Regions from separate parts of the Homo sapiens genome. Here region 1 is linked to region 2. Evidence: fine-mapped expression QTL. Tissue or cell type: whole blood. Region 2 holds a variant in brackets; the other region holds the start of a gene. All regions are shown on one strand. Distances are between the middles of the regions.

Region 1 (8,106 bases), 200 kb after region 2:
AACAGTAATTCACATTTTTAAACACACAGTTCAACACTGCTGAAGCTGCAATATCCTTTTTCATCCCAAGCAAACCTTCATAAGACAGTGTCCCAGTGATCCCAGTGTACTTTCAGCATTTCTCTCACTGGGAACTGTCAGAAAACCAGAAGTTGCCACAGAAAGTTTTAAGTCAACTGCTTGTTTAAAAATAGATAATCCAGCATTTCAGAAATTTTCCATTTGGGTCTAAAAGCATTCAGGTTTCCAACAGCCAGAAAAAATTCATGCAATTTGAGACATATAAAGAGGCTAATAAAACTGGAGGGAATTTCTACTTAAAAAAAAAAACAAAAAACAAAAAAACTTTGTTGGGGGGGAAAAAAGAGCTCAAAAGACAATGCAGTGTTGACAAAATTAAGCCATATGAAAGCATTTTGTGACAGGACGATTTGTTTAAAAGGTTCTTATTGGCTTACTTCCCCTATCCCCTCAAAGGAAAAACACCTCTCTATTCTGACTTGCTCTAAAGTTTCTTTTATCAGAATGCTAAATTAGTGAGATTCTCATGCTATTCTAAAGTGCAAAAACAAGTTAATATCCCAACTTTTTATTTCCAGGAAACAAGACTGCTTTTAGACCGTACCACAACTATATAGAGATCTATTTATATATATGTATATATATATATATTATTTATATATATATAAAATTATTTCCAAAGTTCTTGAGAGCTATCTTCTAAGGTCCAGTCTCTGACAGTAGGCAAGCTCAGTGCTTCGCTTTTGACCGACAAGGAGTTCACCAACTCACAGTGGAACTTGCGAATGTGTCTGTACAGGTCCCCGGACTGCGTGAACCTGCGCTCGCACCACTTGCAGGCGTGCGGCTTCTCGCGGGTGTGCACCACGGCATGGCGGCTCAGGTTGTGCGAGTACTGGAAGCTCTTGCCGCACTGGGTGCATGTGTAGGGCTTCTCCCCCGAGTGAGTCCTCTCGTGGCGCTTGAGGGTGTACATGCAAGAGAAAGTCTTCCCACACAGCGAGCACGTGGGCACGTTGACATCGGCGGCGGGCTTGCTGCGGATGCCGTCCTGCTCGCGGAAGTGCGTGCTCAGGTGGATCTGCAGGATGTGGGGGCTGGGGAAGACCTTGTTGCACAGGGGGCACATGAAGATCTGGCCCGCGGGGCTCAGGATGTTGGAGACGTAGGGGAGCAGACTGCTCTCCATGCCTCCCTCCACCTGGACACGCTCGCTCTCTGGGGTCATCATCTCATCATCACTGGCTTTGTCCTCCCGGTCCAGCTCCCTCAAGACCGAGTCCTCCCTCAGGGGAGCCAGATGGGCCGGCTCATACTGTACCCTGTTATTAGTGCTCACACTTTCTTTCACAGTGCTATGTTCCATGTCATAGTCATTAGTGCCAACATCACTCTCATCACAGGAAGCCTCTTTCTCCACCTTCACCTGCACCAGGTTGCTTCTCAGCACGTCCTGTGAAGAGAAATAAGAGCTGTTCAGATTTTCAACTCCTGAAAGGCTGGACTTGACAGACAGGTCCAGCACACAGTCAACATCTGCCGAATCCCTCACGGAGGTGACAGACCTCTGGGACAAAGACTCTGTTGAGCTGCAGGGGCTGGCTACTGTTTTTCCAGCTGCTGTGGCGTGTGGCTCTGCCTCTCCGCCAGCCTGGGGGATGCCTGCTGAGTCTGAGGGCAATCGCATCCACATGTTCCCAGGCTCGGCCGCCAAGTCCCTTTTGCTGGGCAGGATGTTCAATTTTTCATCTTCTCCTTCATCTTCATCACTGGGCAAATCGCCTGCTATGTGGCTGCTGCCATCGGAGAGACTCTCGACTTTGTCCGAACAACTTGAAGCATCTTCTTCCTTTTTGGTGCTGTCTGCCTCCGTGGTGGCTTTCTCTTTCAGCTTCTTTTTGCAGACTTTGACAATGTCATACATGTGGAGATAACTGGCAGCTGCTAGCACGTCTTCAATGGGCAAGTCTTTGAACTGGAGTTTCCCTTCATACATGAATTCAAGCAGGAGAGCGAAAGCGGGGGCTGTAACAATGTCGCTGTTCAGATGAACAATGTCTCTTTTGTCCAGCTGGTCCTTGTAAAAGAGGTGGAAATACATGCTGCATGAAGCCAGTACAGCTCGGTGCGCTCGGAACTGGGCATCTCCCACCAGAACAGTGCAGTCACAAAGAAAACCCTGGTGTCTCTGCTCGCTCAGACACTGTAGCAAATGTCTACTATGGTCTGGAAACTCCATACTGTCTTCATAACCTGGGGAGAGAGGAATTTCTCATTAGAGCCTGGTCAGGAACAACTTTTCAGCGCTCCAGTCCCCATATAAAAAAATTAATTCCGCTTTGGCCGCCGTGGTACATGTCCCTGAATTTTAATCAGGCTTATGACCCAAGCACCACCAAATCACACGGACAAGACCTAAATGCCAGAAGGAAAATGCACACTTTCTGAACTTCCTCACCCCCGCCAAAGAGCTTCCGACGCATCTCCATCTTCCTTGAACCCAAGTTCTAAAAGCCTTCCTTTAACTACAGTCTCTCACTAAGAATAAGAATTTAGATCTCTTCCAGAAGAAATTTAATTAACTCTACTTATCAAATTATGTCCCACAAAACCTACAAAATAGCTTTAATTTCAAAGGGAACAACTCATATAATAAACAAAGAAAAGTCCCAAACATATCCTGGAACATACAAGAAAACTTGTTCAACCATCCTTTTTATTACTTTTGCTACCTGACTGTGCTTAGAAAGCACAGTTTAAACACACACACACACATTTGGCTGAATCAAGAAAAAAAAATGAAATTGCATAATTAGTCCAGAAATTAGCAAACAACTTACTTTTAAAGTCAGGGTGTTACAACAAAAGCCCTGTGTATAAAAACAGATGTTAATGCCTTCAGATTTGCAGGTATAGCACACATGTACGAGATCAGAAGGAGCTGCACCAACAGATGGAAAAGATCATCTTTACTATGAACAAATCCAAAGATTTTTCAAAACGAACTGAGAAAAAAGTAGTTACATTTCTTTGTAGAAACTGTACTTTCAGAATATTAGGAACCAGAGGGGCTTTACTGAACTCCGAAAATTCTCATCTAAACTTTGATCCGTTGCAAGGCAAAATGAGTTTCATATTGAAATTAATTCAAACTTTTAAAAATAAAGGCATACAGCGCTTAAATAAAACTCAAAAGCTTTACAGGTTCAACGTTTTTTTTTAAGCCTTTTTAGAAAAAGAGAACCTTTTTTTTTTTCCTGGTTCTGCCTTACCTCAGCCAACAGAAAATACTTTGTTTCAATATAATTTGATATATTTCTGTTTTCCCACTAGCTTCTATTCTTGCAAATATTCATCATTGCCCTTGTTTTGTGATGAGGGAAAGTGAAATGGAGGGAGGAGAAAGGCAAAGATGTACAAAGGGTCAGAATTCAACTGCAGTGGGTAAACTCCTGAAAAATAAAGAAGACCCGACTTCCCCTTTCCTGTGACCAGAAGCAAGCCTCCACACCACCCATCTCAGCAAGTGCATTTTGGGAATAGATACACTTAATTTAATATTCAGAAATTACTTCCTTTCTTCTTGTTCTTCTACACTTTGCCCAAGACAGACTAAAACTTTATCCTAACCCCAGACACATTCTGCAAGATGCCACTGCTAGAATAAACTAAGATTTACAATACAATCACTTTAAGTGCCCCACAGCTAACATCAATCCTAATCCTTGAGAAGGCTAAAAATAAAGATTGGAGGGCAGCTCACAAGGTAGCCGTGATCAAATTAGGAGGCTGAGAGGACAGAGAGGGACGAAGAAGGAAGCTTATAAACATCTGATCCAGCTGACTGTGGCCATATGGCAGCTGCTGCCCAGATAAAGAGATTAAGAATAGAGGAGTGCGATTACAGCTGTCTGGCCAATTCAGGCAGCTCAAATCTACAAGTTCTAAATTAGTCGCTAACACAAAAACTCCTGCAAATAATTATTGTTATGCTGAAATAAAAGATCTCTTAAATATATATTTGAAAGAGAAATGAGGAAACCAGTCAAACTATTCTCCTGGGGACAAAAGTTTGGTTTTTTTTTCTTCTTCTTAAAAACCTGCAGTTTCAACAGCACTACAGCTGTATGTTTCAGTAGTGCTGCTCAATGTTTTGAAGAATAAAGTTTCACAGAGGAATTAATTATACAACAATCTAGCTGCTTAACTAGAATAATCTTCTCATATAAGTTTGAATGCTGGATTCCAGTTTACTATTTCCCCACCACCACCACCCCAATCAAATCTAAATAGCAGTGAACAACAAAAAAGCATTTTAATCCAACGTGATTTCCAAAAGCAGCATTTTAAAGCCTTTCTTAACATTTCAAAACTTGAAATATTTGTGTATTAAAGTTATTTACTCGCTCAAGTAAAAGGGATAAAAAATTAAAACTAAACAAGCTCAAGACTTTCAACTCCAGTAAGATGTTCATTTAATACTCAATTTCATATATTATTCCTAAACTGGGTTAGAAAAGTAATGTGATTTTTAAAATTAAATAAACAAAACACCAAAACAGAAATATGCTCAATCTAATCTCTTGCTACTCCTACCTTTAGGACACATAAACCTGATTAAGTCCTTTCCTCTGAGTCCTGCTGGCTCCAGGTCTGTTACATCGGTGGAAAAAAAGCAGACTAAGAGAGACAGATGCAAAGTGGAGATGATGTTAGAGAGGAATGAGATACCTTCTCCACCACAGATCCGCACACACTAACTCCCTGTCTGTGTGTTAGAATAAAAGGCTGAGGGATGGCAGGCTGTCAGCTGCTCTGACATCATGTTCAGATGGAAATGCTACCTCCAGCTGTGCTCCTTTTAATGCCATATGCTACTCCTCTACACTCCTGCCACCAGCTTTTTCTTAGGAGAACTTTTCTCTTCTGTTAGTATAAACAAAATACTTCAAAGTCTTCCTTTTTTTCCAAACTTTCTAACAGAAGAAATTGAAAAACTCAGCATATGGAGTTCTACTGTATTTATGGAATAGCAACACTTCTGTCTTAAGTTGGTGGACTGGCTTACATACTGACAGCACACTCAAGCCACGGTGCTATTCAGGAAATCCAGATTCACTTTTATTCAACTCCAACGTTTAGTTTCTAAAGCAGTTTAGGGATATTTTTAAACCAACCCATTTGACATCTCCAGTCCCATTTCAACATTATTACCGCACTTTTTTATTTTTTTCTGCTGAGATAATGGTATACATGTCTCAAATGTTGGCAGACTTGTTCAGAACTATTACTTCAGACTGGTTCACCTTATTATTTCACTCTTATGTAATTACTTATCTACAACTACCTTCTCAGAAAAATTTCTTACACTGCCACAGTCAATGCAAATTTCAATTCTCGGTACCAACAAGCTGAAACTGCACTTTCTGAAATCCTGGAAAGTACTTCAGTTCAACGAGACCAATTAATAAACTGATACAACCTGCTCCAGTCACTTAAAATGAATGCTGCACCTGCATATCTGATCTTTCTGCTCAGAAAAAGCAGAACCTTGCCTTCCCCTTGATCTGTGTCCCTTAACAATCTTTTTTTTCTTTGGGGGGGGGTCACTCTAATGTTTATGATCACAAGAAAATCTTTGTGTGGGGGGAAGCCAGGTCTAGTAAGTTTGAGAACTTTTCAGCCAGTTTGTGGGTCTTTTCTAATAGCTGATGAAACTGTAACGCGACCCGGGCTGGGCTGACCGGTACCGGGCAGGGTGCTGCGACATCTCTGAATGTCAAATACATCTCCTCAGACTCTTGGGAGGGCGAGGGGTAGAAAAGGAACTGGGGCCTGAGGCGCCAGCGTCCCAGCCCTGGTGATAACCACTTCGTTCCCATTAGAAAGCCGTGGCGGAGAGTTAAAGAGTAACAAAACCCGACGACTCCGTCCTGTCCTTCTCGCTTTCCCAAAGTCACAAACCTAACTTTCTCCAACTTCGCGGTGAGTGACATAATTATGAACACTTAGTCCAGGAGACATCCTCGGGAGATCAATTTCTTCCCAGCCACACCACCTATTCTCCACAAATGCCCTCGACCCATTCCAATATATCAGACATTAATCACCCCATTTACCCAGTGGGGTGGGGGGTGAGTGACAGTTTAATGAGTCCCGGGCACCGCAATGGGCCAGCAACTCCCACTCCACAAATCAACCCCTTCACGTCTCGCTACCGCGGATCCATAGAGGTTTTGTGAGGTTGGGGTTTTGTTTTTCAGAGAGGTGGGGGCGGGGGTGCCGAGTGGGGAAGCAATGCAAATCTTTACGTAGTTCGCCGTGCATAAAACACACGGGGAAAGAGGAAGGTTAAAACCACAGGGAAGGAGGTGGAGGGCGCAGAGCCGGTGCAGCAGGAAAACACCTTAAACAACAGAGGAGAAAACAGACCCGGGTCACGGCAACAACAAAAGAAAAGTCGTAAGAAGCAGCCAGCGGGAGGAGAGTGGTTGCTACCGCTTCCCCGATGCCGCGACGCGCGAGCCCCCGGGGCCTCCGGGCAACTGCACCAGCCCGGGAGGGCCCCCTCCCCCGCCGGCCCCCTCCCCCGGGCGCCACTGCAGCTGCACCGGTCCCCGGAGCCGCGGCCGTCCCGGGCGCCACTGCAGCTGCGGCTGCTCCCAAGCCCCCTCCCCCAGCCCGCCGCCCTCCGCACCCGAGAGGCGCCACCGCAGCTGCACCGGCCGGGAGCCCGCCCCGCGCCGCAGCTGCACCGGCCCGCGGGGGCGCGGCGCGGAGCCGGGAACCCGCACCCCGCCCGACCCCGCAGCTGCAGCGGCCCCGTCCCCGCGCCCGGGCCTCCCGCAGCTGCGCCGCCCCCCGCCGCCCCAACAGCTCCAACCACACAAACTAACTCCACTCGCGGGGGCGCCCCCGACCCGGCCCGCCCTCCGCCCGCGCCGCCCAGCCGGCCGGGGCCGCACAGCTGGCGCCCCCCGCCCGCCGGGGTGCCGGGGCGCGGAGGGGGCGCCAGGTCAGGGGCCAGGGGCCGGCGCCGGGACTCACACGGAGCGGCCCTAAGTCACCGCGTCCCCGCCGCCGCCGCGTCCTCCGCCTCCTCCTCCTCCTCCTCCCGGCCGCCGCCGCCGCCGCCGGACTTGGTGGGCTTCCTCCGGCTCTTGCCCCCCTCCCTCCCGGCCCCCCCACCCCCCAATCCCGGCTCCGTCGCCCGCTCCCCCCCGCCCCTCCCTCCCGCCCACCCCCGCTGGCAGCCGGAGGAGCGCGGCGGAGCGAAGAGGGCCCCACTCTCAACGGCTCCCCATGGCAGCAGCCCAGCGGCGGCCGCAGCCTGCCAGACACAGCGAGGGAGCGAGCGAGGGAGCGAGCGCGGAGCCGCCGGGCCGGGTGGGGGGGCGGGGGCGGGGGGGGGGCGGGCGCGGGGGAGGGGGAGGGGAGGGGGCGGGAGGACGCACCACGCACGCACGCGGCGGCGCCGGCCAGATGTTCCCCCCACCCTCAGTCCGCCCCTCTCCTTCCCCTGCCTCCCTCCCTCCGGGCGTTGGGCTTCTGCGATTGACCGAAAGCGGCTGGACCGGCGCTCCCCGCCCGCCCCCAGCCCTCAGACTCCTCCAATGGGAAGGCGGCTCTTCGGGAAGGCGGAGGGGGTGGTGGGCAGTCGTCGGACTGACAAGGGGGCCCAGCCAATGGGGGTGGCGAGCCGTAGCTGCCCTCCCGCGCGTTCCAATCGCAGGCAGCAACTGTTGGGGTGGGCGGGGCTCGGGCGGGCGGGGATCCGGAGCGAAGCGGCGCGGGGCGGAGTCCTCGGGCGCAGCGGCGGTGGCAGCAGCGGCGCCCCTCTGGGTGACTTGGCCGTGAGAAAGTGAAAGGAGCCCGCAGGCGGCGGCGACAGCTGCGCTGGGAGGGGCTTGTTTCCAGGCTCAGAGGCCCCGCGCACTCTGCGGGTGCGGAGCGAGCTTTTCGGTGTGCACTGTGACAACCACAAACACACTTTTGAACGTAGTGGGGCTTGGCTGCTGCGAGTTACGCAGGTATCCTGGAGAGGCAGGGCACCCGGGGACACGGATGACTCGAGGCCGACTTCGG
Region 2 (8,106 bases):
GGAGAACCAGGAAAGCTGGTGGTGTCATTTTCTTTCAGTGCAAAGTGCAAAGGCTTGAGAACCAGGACCTCTGATGTTTGAGAGCAAGAGAAAACGGATGACCCAGCTCAAAGAGTGTGAGCCAATCCATCACCTTCGTCTGCCTTTTTGTTCTATTTGGGCCTTCACTGGATGGGATGGTGCCCACCCCATGGGTAAGGGAGATCTTCTCACTCAGTCTACTGACTCCTGTGCTAATCTCTTCCAGAAATACCCTCACAGACAGACCTTGAAATGATGGGTTACCGGCTACCTGGGCATCCCTTAGCCCAGTCAAGTTGACACATGAAATTAGCCAACATACCTACCCTAGCAACATTAGGGCTATCATATCCACAGACACGACATTTGATTTAGGTTCTTTGTCACAAACGCTTCCTTTCCACAGCGTACAAAGCTGAAGCCCCAGATGCTATTGTGTCAGCAGCTTACTTTTTCGATTTCTTTCATCACCCATCCGAGTCCCTGCCTGCAATGAAAATTATTCCACTTCCCCTGTCATATGGAGCACTAGTAATTCCCCTGCTCTGCAGGATGCAAATTTTAGGCTGTCCCTTCCTATAGGATGCTAGTTTCACCACTTTTTGTTTTGATAACAGAGGTAATTATGTTGAGCCCAGTTATTTTGCTTTTGATTTGTTTCTTACCTATCAGTGCTATGTCTTTGCAGTCAAGGCGTGTGAGACAGAGCGTGACGTCCCTGCACTGGCTTCCCCAGGATCCTGTCTTCTTTTTGAGGCTCTCCACACTCTTCCTCCTCCAGTGAATTGTGCACTGTTATGTTTCAGGTAGTTCTGAGGACAGCCTTGATGCCGGCGCTGGGCAAAAATAAAGGGCTCCCACTTCCACTCTCAGCTCCCAGAGGGATGTCCTTGGCCGTATCGCCAGGACATCTGCCCAGGAAAGGAACAGGGGAGTATAAGAAGATATCAGCTGCAAAGACCATCCTTCATTGTAAGAACGATGCTGGAGGAGAGGACGTGGAGGGATAGGGGGCTTGTTCTCTCCCCTGTTCCACTCCACCAAACTTCCCAGAGAAAAACAATTTTTTTTTTCTTTTTTGAGACAAGGTCTTGCTCTGACACAGAGGCTGGAGTGCAGTGGTGCAATCACGGGCTCACTGCACCCCTGAACTCCTGGGCTCAAATGATCCTCCTGCCCCAGCCTCCTGAGTAGCTGGAACTACAGGCATGTGCCACCATGCCCTGCTAATTTATTTTTATTTTTGTAGAGATGGAATCTCCCTATATTGCCCAGGCTAGTGTTGAACTCCTGGGCTAAAGTGACCCTCTTGCCTCAGCCTCCCAAAATGCTGGGATTACAGATGTGAGCCACTGACCCTGGCAGAAAAAGATGTTTTAATTGCCAGAAACATATGTGGAAATACTGAAAGAACAAGAAATTAGCTGCCTAAATTTTGTTACCTTTTTTTTTTTTTTTTTTGAGATGGAGTCTCGCTCTGTCGCCCAGGCTGGAGTGCAGTGGCACAATCTCGGCTCACTGCAAGCTCCGCCTCCTGGGTTCACGCCATTCTCCCGCTTCAGCCTCCCAAGTAGCTGGGACTGTGGGTGCCCGCCACCACTCCCGGCTAATTTTGTTTTTGTATTTTTAGTAGAGACAGGGTTTCACCATGTTAGCCAGGATGGTCTCAATCTTCTGACCTCGTGATCCGGCCGCCTCAGCCTTCCAAAGTGCTAGGAATACAGGTGTAAGCCACCACACTTGGCCAGTAACGATAATAATTCTTTTTTTTTTTGACACGGGATCTCACTCTGTTGCCCAGGTTGGAATGCAGTTGTGCGATCTTGGCTCACTGCAACCTCTGCCTCCTAGGTTCAAGTGATTCTCCTGCCTCAGCCTCCTAAGTAGCTGGGAGTACAGGCATGCACCACCACACCTGGCTAAGTTTTGTACTTTTAGTAGAAACAGAGTTTTGCCAGGTTGCCAAGGCTGGCCTTGAACTCCTTGGCTCAGGGGTTCTGCCCACCTCAGCCTCCCAAAGTGCTGGGATTACAGGCGTGAGCCACTGCAACTGGCCACCTTTTTATAATTCTTATGACACTGTAAATAATCTCAAAAGTTCCCAATTAGATAGAAAATAAAAGTAAAGAAAAATGGGCCAGGTACAGTGACTCACATCTGTAATACCAGCGCTTTGGGAGGGCGAGGCAGGAGGTTTGCTTGAGGCCAGGAGTTCAAGACAAGTCTGGGCAACATAGTGAGACCCCATCTCTACAAAAAATTTAAAAATTAGCTGGACATGGTGATGCACACCTGTAATTCTAGCTACCTGGGACTGAAGCAGGAGGATTGCTTGAGTCTAGGAGTTTGAGGTTGCAGTGAGCTATGACTGTGCCACTGTACTCTAGGCTGGGTGACAGAATGAGACCTTATCTCAAAAAAAAAATTATAAGAGAAAAATGAAGAACATTTTTTATGTAATTGACTATAGTACAGAATAGAATTGGAATTTAAAGTTGCTATTGTAGTTATTTTATTTTATTATTTTGGAGACTGGGTCTTACTATGTTTCCCAAGCTGGTCAGAAACTCCTGGTCTTAAGTAATCCTCCCACCTCAGCCTCCCAAAGCCCTGGGATTACACCAGGTGAACCCTCCTGCCCGGCTCTGTAATTTTATATTACTTATTCTTAATATATTTTCTTTAAAAAATATTTGAAAATAATTGTTATTTAAATTACCTAACCTTGTATATTAATTAGTTCCTGATATTTCTTAAATAAAGGATTCCTGTGCTGTGCACTGATGTGTAACTCAATCTGCACACCGTGTAAAACTCTTGGATTGGAACAAATCTAAGAGATGAAATTTTTTCCAGGATAAAGCTGAACCTAACCGCTCACCCAGTGTGAATATTCTCTTTACAGCCTGTTAAACAACACAGCTATAGAGGCACATGTGGTTTTGTGTGTATGTGTGTGTGGCTACGAAGGGTTAAAATCTCAGGTTCTCCTAATTCTGTGAGCATGTGGTGGCCAGCCCAGAGCCAGATTGAGCCATGTTAATTTCCCAGAAGATTTCAAGGAATTATTTTTTGAAAAGGGAAGTTTGGACTAATAAAAACCAGGATAACCTCCGGCAGTCACATGGAAAAGAACAGAGACAAATTACTCCCGGTTTGTTCGACATTGTGGCCGGGGGCTTTCTCTAGCCAGACCAGACTGCTTTGTTTTTCCTTCATTCCAAATAGAGGAGTGATTTCAGTCATGTGCTGGGAAAGGTAAGAGCAGCAAAGTGATGCTGAGTGCTCCTCTGTGCTCTCTTTCTTGGGTTCGGCTCTTCCAGAGGCGCGGTAGGCGCTGCGAGGGCTCCGGCGTCATCAGGCCCCAGGTTTGGATTCCTGTTTGGCCACTTTGGGGAAATTTATGTTTCCCCTCTGAGCTTCAATTTCTATAACTATTAAGGAAGATAATTAACCTCATAGCCATCATGTTGAAGATTTGGATGTGATAAGGTCTGTAACGTGCCTGGCACATAGTAAAGACAAAAAAAATGCATAGAAATGCCTGGCTTACCCTCGGATCAGCTCCTCTCTTCAGGGTCTCATAGCTGTGGAAACCTCACCTCTTTTGTAAATAGCTCCCTGCAGGAGCTATTTGTAACCAGATGATTGACAGAGGGTTTGTGTACACATTAAGGCATTTTAAAATAAAATATCGGTTATCTATTGGCTATTGGCTATGTAACAAATTTCCCCCAAAATTAGGAACTTAAAATAATCTTCTTTTTTTTTTTTTTTTTTTTTTTTTTTTAAGAAACAGGATCTCAGTCTGTTGCCGAGGCTGGAGTGCAGTGTTGTGATTGTGGCTCACTGGCTCGTGGTAGCCTCAACCTCCTGGACCCAAGCAATTCTCCTACCTCAGCCTCCTGAGTAGCTAGAACTACAAGCATGCACCACCATGCCCAGCTAATTTTTTTTTTTTTTGGCTTTTTTACAGAGACAGGGATCTCACTATGTTGCCCAGGCTGGTCTCAAACTCCTGAGTCCAAGCGATCCTCCTGCCTTGGCCTCCTAAAGTGCTGAAATTATGGGTGTGAGTCACTGCACCCAGAGAAAACAGAAACAACCATTTTATTATGCTGACAGATTCTGTAGGTCAGGAAAGCACAGCTCCATGATGTCTATGGCCTCGACTGGGAGAACTGAAAAGTGACAGGGGGCGGAGGGCGGGTGGCGGTGACCAGCCCACTGGGGGAAGAAATCATTTAGAGATACGTTCATGCACATTCCCAGCTGTCAGTTAGGACCTCACACTAGGAACACCCACACATGGCACCTCCATGTGGCTTGGGCTTCCATACAGTATGGCGGTTTCGTACTTACATGGCAACTGATGGCCTGAAGGCAAGTTTCCCAAGAAAACCAGGCAAAAACAGTACCACTTTTTAGGT[C/T]CTAGTCTTGGAAGAAGTCACATAGCATCACTTCTGCTGGGTCTCAAGCCCTTCCAAGTTCAAGGGGAGGGAACGTGGACTTCACCTCTTGATGGCAAGAATGTCAGTCATATTGTGAGAACATGTAAAATGGGATATGTGGCATCTTTGGAAAATACAATCTGCCCCAGGGTTGAGTGAGTCAATAGTAAGTCCTCAAAACATTTCACTGGACCTGGTGAAGTATGAAAAATATATTTGAGGAGAATAGCTACAAGGCCATTGCCACTGTGGTTCGGGTGGGAAATAATGAAGGCCTGAAAAAAGCAGCAACAGAGAGAATGGAGAGAAGGAGGTGGCTGTCAGAGTTGGCCCTGGGATAGAATCACTCTCCTGCATGCAGCGCAGAGGAATATGAAAAGGAGAAAGAAGAGTCCCAAGGCTCTGACATTTTGAACCTGAGTGCCCAGCAGGGTGGGGCTGCTGTTATCTGAAATAGGGAAGTCACAGAGAGAAGCAGGAAACCTCCTCTTCCCTCTTTGCTCACCACATGCCTGTCCCTTCCCCAGCGACTTGGGCGTATGCGGCCTCAATCTATTTTGCATGCATGTCCTTTGCTTTTCACAGATCTGGACATGAGCTCAGATCCTGGGGCCTCAGTAAATCCCTCCAGGGCTGGGACGACGACCTTTCAGAGATGACATCAAGGGCTGTGCCTGGAAATGAGGCCATTTATGGAGCTGATTTTGAGTCCAAATCTGCTGTTTACTTTCAGCTTTACCTGTATAACTAAACGTCCAGGAAAAAGCAGTTGGACATGTGGAGCTTCTGCGAACTTTTTCAGTATCATCAGGAAAAGGCATGAGCAAACATCGCCTGATGAAGGAGCTCAAGTTCGCTTTTTGTGGCACTTGGAGGTCAGGCCCTTAGGACTCCATACTTAATCATGTTCTTTTTTGTTTGTTTTGAGATGGAGTCTTGCTCTGTCCCCCAGGCTGGAGTGCAGTGGCATGATCTTGGCTTACTGCAAGCTCTGCCTCCCGGGCTCACGCCATTCTCCTGCCTCAGCCTCCTGAGTAGCTGTGACTACAGGTGCCCGCCAACACGCCTGGCTAATTTTTTTGTATTTTTAGTAGAGACAGGGTTTTACCATGTCGCCCAGGCTGGTCTCCAACTCCTGACTTTAAGTGATCCGCCCACCTCGGCCTCCCAAAGTGCTGGGATTACAGGCGTGAGCCACTGCACCCGGCCAGGAATTACTTTTAGAATCATCATGTGAACCATTATCACTCTATACCTTGTTTTTTGACCCCAACTTGCCTTACCCACTATATAACTCAGGGCTCTTTTATTTACAAGTGACAAGAATTAAATTAAGTGAAAAAGCAAATTTATGGGCTCGTATAACTGGAAGGCTGGAGCATCTGGCCTCAGGTGTGACTGGATGCAGGAGCTCAAATGATGTCCTTGCATCTCCACCCTTTTCACTTCTCTCTGTAGGTTCAACTCATTCTTGATCACTGACAATGGACTTCCTGCATGCGCTACAAGCAACCCTCCCAGGTTAGTAACCCCAGGGAAAAGAGAGCCTGCTCCCACTTACCCCTTCTTCCCCACTCCCACCACCATTCATACCTCATTTCTGGGCAGGACTCTGATTGGTGCAAACTGAGCTATGTGCCCATTATTGGGCTTAAAAAAATAGGGAAAAAGCACATGTTCTGGGCAGGCAAAAATAGTAGTGGCCAGTGGCTACCTCACCTGCTTGGCCATCATCCTTGACGCTGCATAGACTCGAACTATTTCCCAAACCTACCCTGGTGCTTTGTTAGAAACACTGATTCTCAAGCCCCCATCCCAGGCCTACCAAGCCAGACCCCACAGTTTAACAAGATCCCCAGGTGATTCTTCTGTACCTTGAAGTTTGGGACAAGCTGAGTAAAAGGAGAAAGGGAGCAGGGCACAGTGGCTCACGCCTGTAATCCCAGCACTTTGGGAGGCCGAGGCAGGTGGATCACCTGAGGTCAGGAGCTCGAGACCAGCCTGACCAACATCGTGAAACCCCATCTTTACTAAAAAATACAAAAATTAGCTGGGTGTGGTGGCAGGTGCCTGTAATCCCAGCTACTCAGGAGGCTGAGGCAGGAGAATCGCTTGAATCCGGGAAGTGGAGATTGCAGTGAGCCAAGATTGTGCCATTGCACTCCAGCCTGGGTGGACAGAGCAAGATTCCGTCTCAAGAAAAAAAACAAACAAAAAAAGGAGATGGGCAATGGCTGTGAAGGAGCTTTCCAGAGACGAGCCTGAGCAGGTTCTGAGCATGGCAGCATGATGGTGGCAGGCAGCCAGCCTCCCCAGGTTAGCCCACAAGGAAGCAGCAGGCCTGGGTACTGCATGGATACCCCAGGCAGGGACTCAGAGACCAGAACTGGGGTACAAAGTCACAGCTAGCGTAAGCCATGACTCTGGTTCTGCTCAAACGTTGAACAGGCAACACCTTGAGTTCCCTGAGTGCAGCAGGCAGGGTGCCGTAACCTGGGTAGGCTAAGCCTGTGGAGGGTGTCTTCAGCAGCTTCTGCAGAGAAGAAAAGAAAGCTTTGAGGCCAGGAGAGTCCATTCCCAGAGTTTTACTGCGGGCAAAAGGTGAAATGACTTTTCTATTTTTTATTTTTTAATAAACTTTATAGTCGGTTGTTAAAGTGTTTCTGAAATTTGGATCCTGTCTAGTTGCAAATAGAGCCACTTCATGCATAAGAGTTTATGCAAAACACAATCATGCCTAGACAGACCACGCCCATTTCCAAGTGAGTTATTCATAGGAGTTAGATGTGGAAATTAGAGAAATTCTTAGTTGACTCCATCAGTTCCCATATCTTTTATTTATTTATTTTAAAGAGAGTATTCCTGTAAGGAGGGCTGCAGAAATGAAAGGCAATGGAAGTTTAATTAGATAGAAAGGTTTCGAGGCCTGGTGGTCTGGGCCAAAGACTGAAATTGCTTCCTGCCGCTTGGCTCAAGGCTCTGAGTCCTTTGCAAACCCAACATGGGACCATGACACCGGCCATAATGCCAGGTGCTGGGGAGCAGCTTCCCCCGGGACTCCAGGCTGTCCTGTCCTTTCATGGGCCTCTCGCGTGGTGTTCCTCACATGCATGCTCCTTTCAGGACTGCACCACAGCCCCACAGTCCTGTGAGACTGGAAGATGCTTTTGCTGTCAATAGAATTCCAAGCCCTAGAGTGTGGGGGTTATGGAAACAGGTTCTAAAATCAGACACACTGAGTTCAAATCCTTTTTTTTTTGCCACTTATTAGATGCCTGATGTTGAGTGGCTACATAACTTTAGTCTCCTCAACTACAAAATAGGGTTAGTGATAGGTTGGTTATGAGGATTACACAAGAAAGTGTACAGGAAGTAAGGAGGTAGAGGTTGTGTCATTTTCCTAATCATATTCTGAGCTCTTGGCCCAGCACTTAACCAAATGTTAAAGCAGTTAGCTCTGCTCAGAACATGGCAAGCACTTAATCAATAGGAGCTATTATTATTATTATTTAGTGTCTATAATAAAGTTTTATTAGAACATAGCCATACCCATTTGTTCATACATTGCTACAACAGCAAAATTGAGTATTTACAAGAGATCATATGGCCTGCAAAGCCAAAATATTTATTACAG

What was found. PIP is the estimated chance that this variant, and not a neighbour inherited with it, causes the effect.
Region 1: ZBTB18 starts here. The variant in region 2 is fine-mapped to the expression of ZBTB18 in whole blood (TOPMed, PIP 0.93).

The regions. Positions count from the first base shown.
Region 1 is chr1:244,047,956-244,056,061 of GRCh38, reverse strand. It overlaps ZBTB18 (zinc finger and BTB domain containing 18), which reads right to left and starts at 4,779. Exons shown (of 2, transcript NM_205768.3): 1 at 4,618-4,779; 2 at 1-2,274. The coding sequence starts at 4,630. The coding sequence ends at 692. LOC124904570 (a long non-coding RNA gene) reads left to right here and starts at 7,821. Exons shown (of 2, transcript XR_007066975.1): 1 at 7,821-8,051. RefSeq lists enhancers at 3,503-4,004, 5,721-5,770, 7,981-8,106 and silencers at 5,451-5,540, 7,691-7,810.
Region 2 is chr1:244,251,538-244,259,643 of GRCh38, reverse strand. LOC105373262 (a long non-coding RNA gene) reads left to right here. Exons shown (of 3, transcript XR_949343.3): 2 at 5,931-5,993. Among named protein-coding and RNA genes, the nearest start is that of SPMIP3, 97 kb to the left of the region's middle. The variant C/T (reference allele first, on the strand shown) is at 4,452.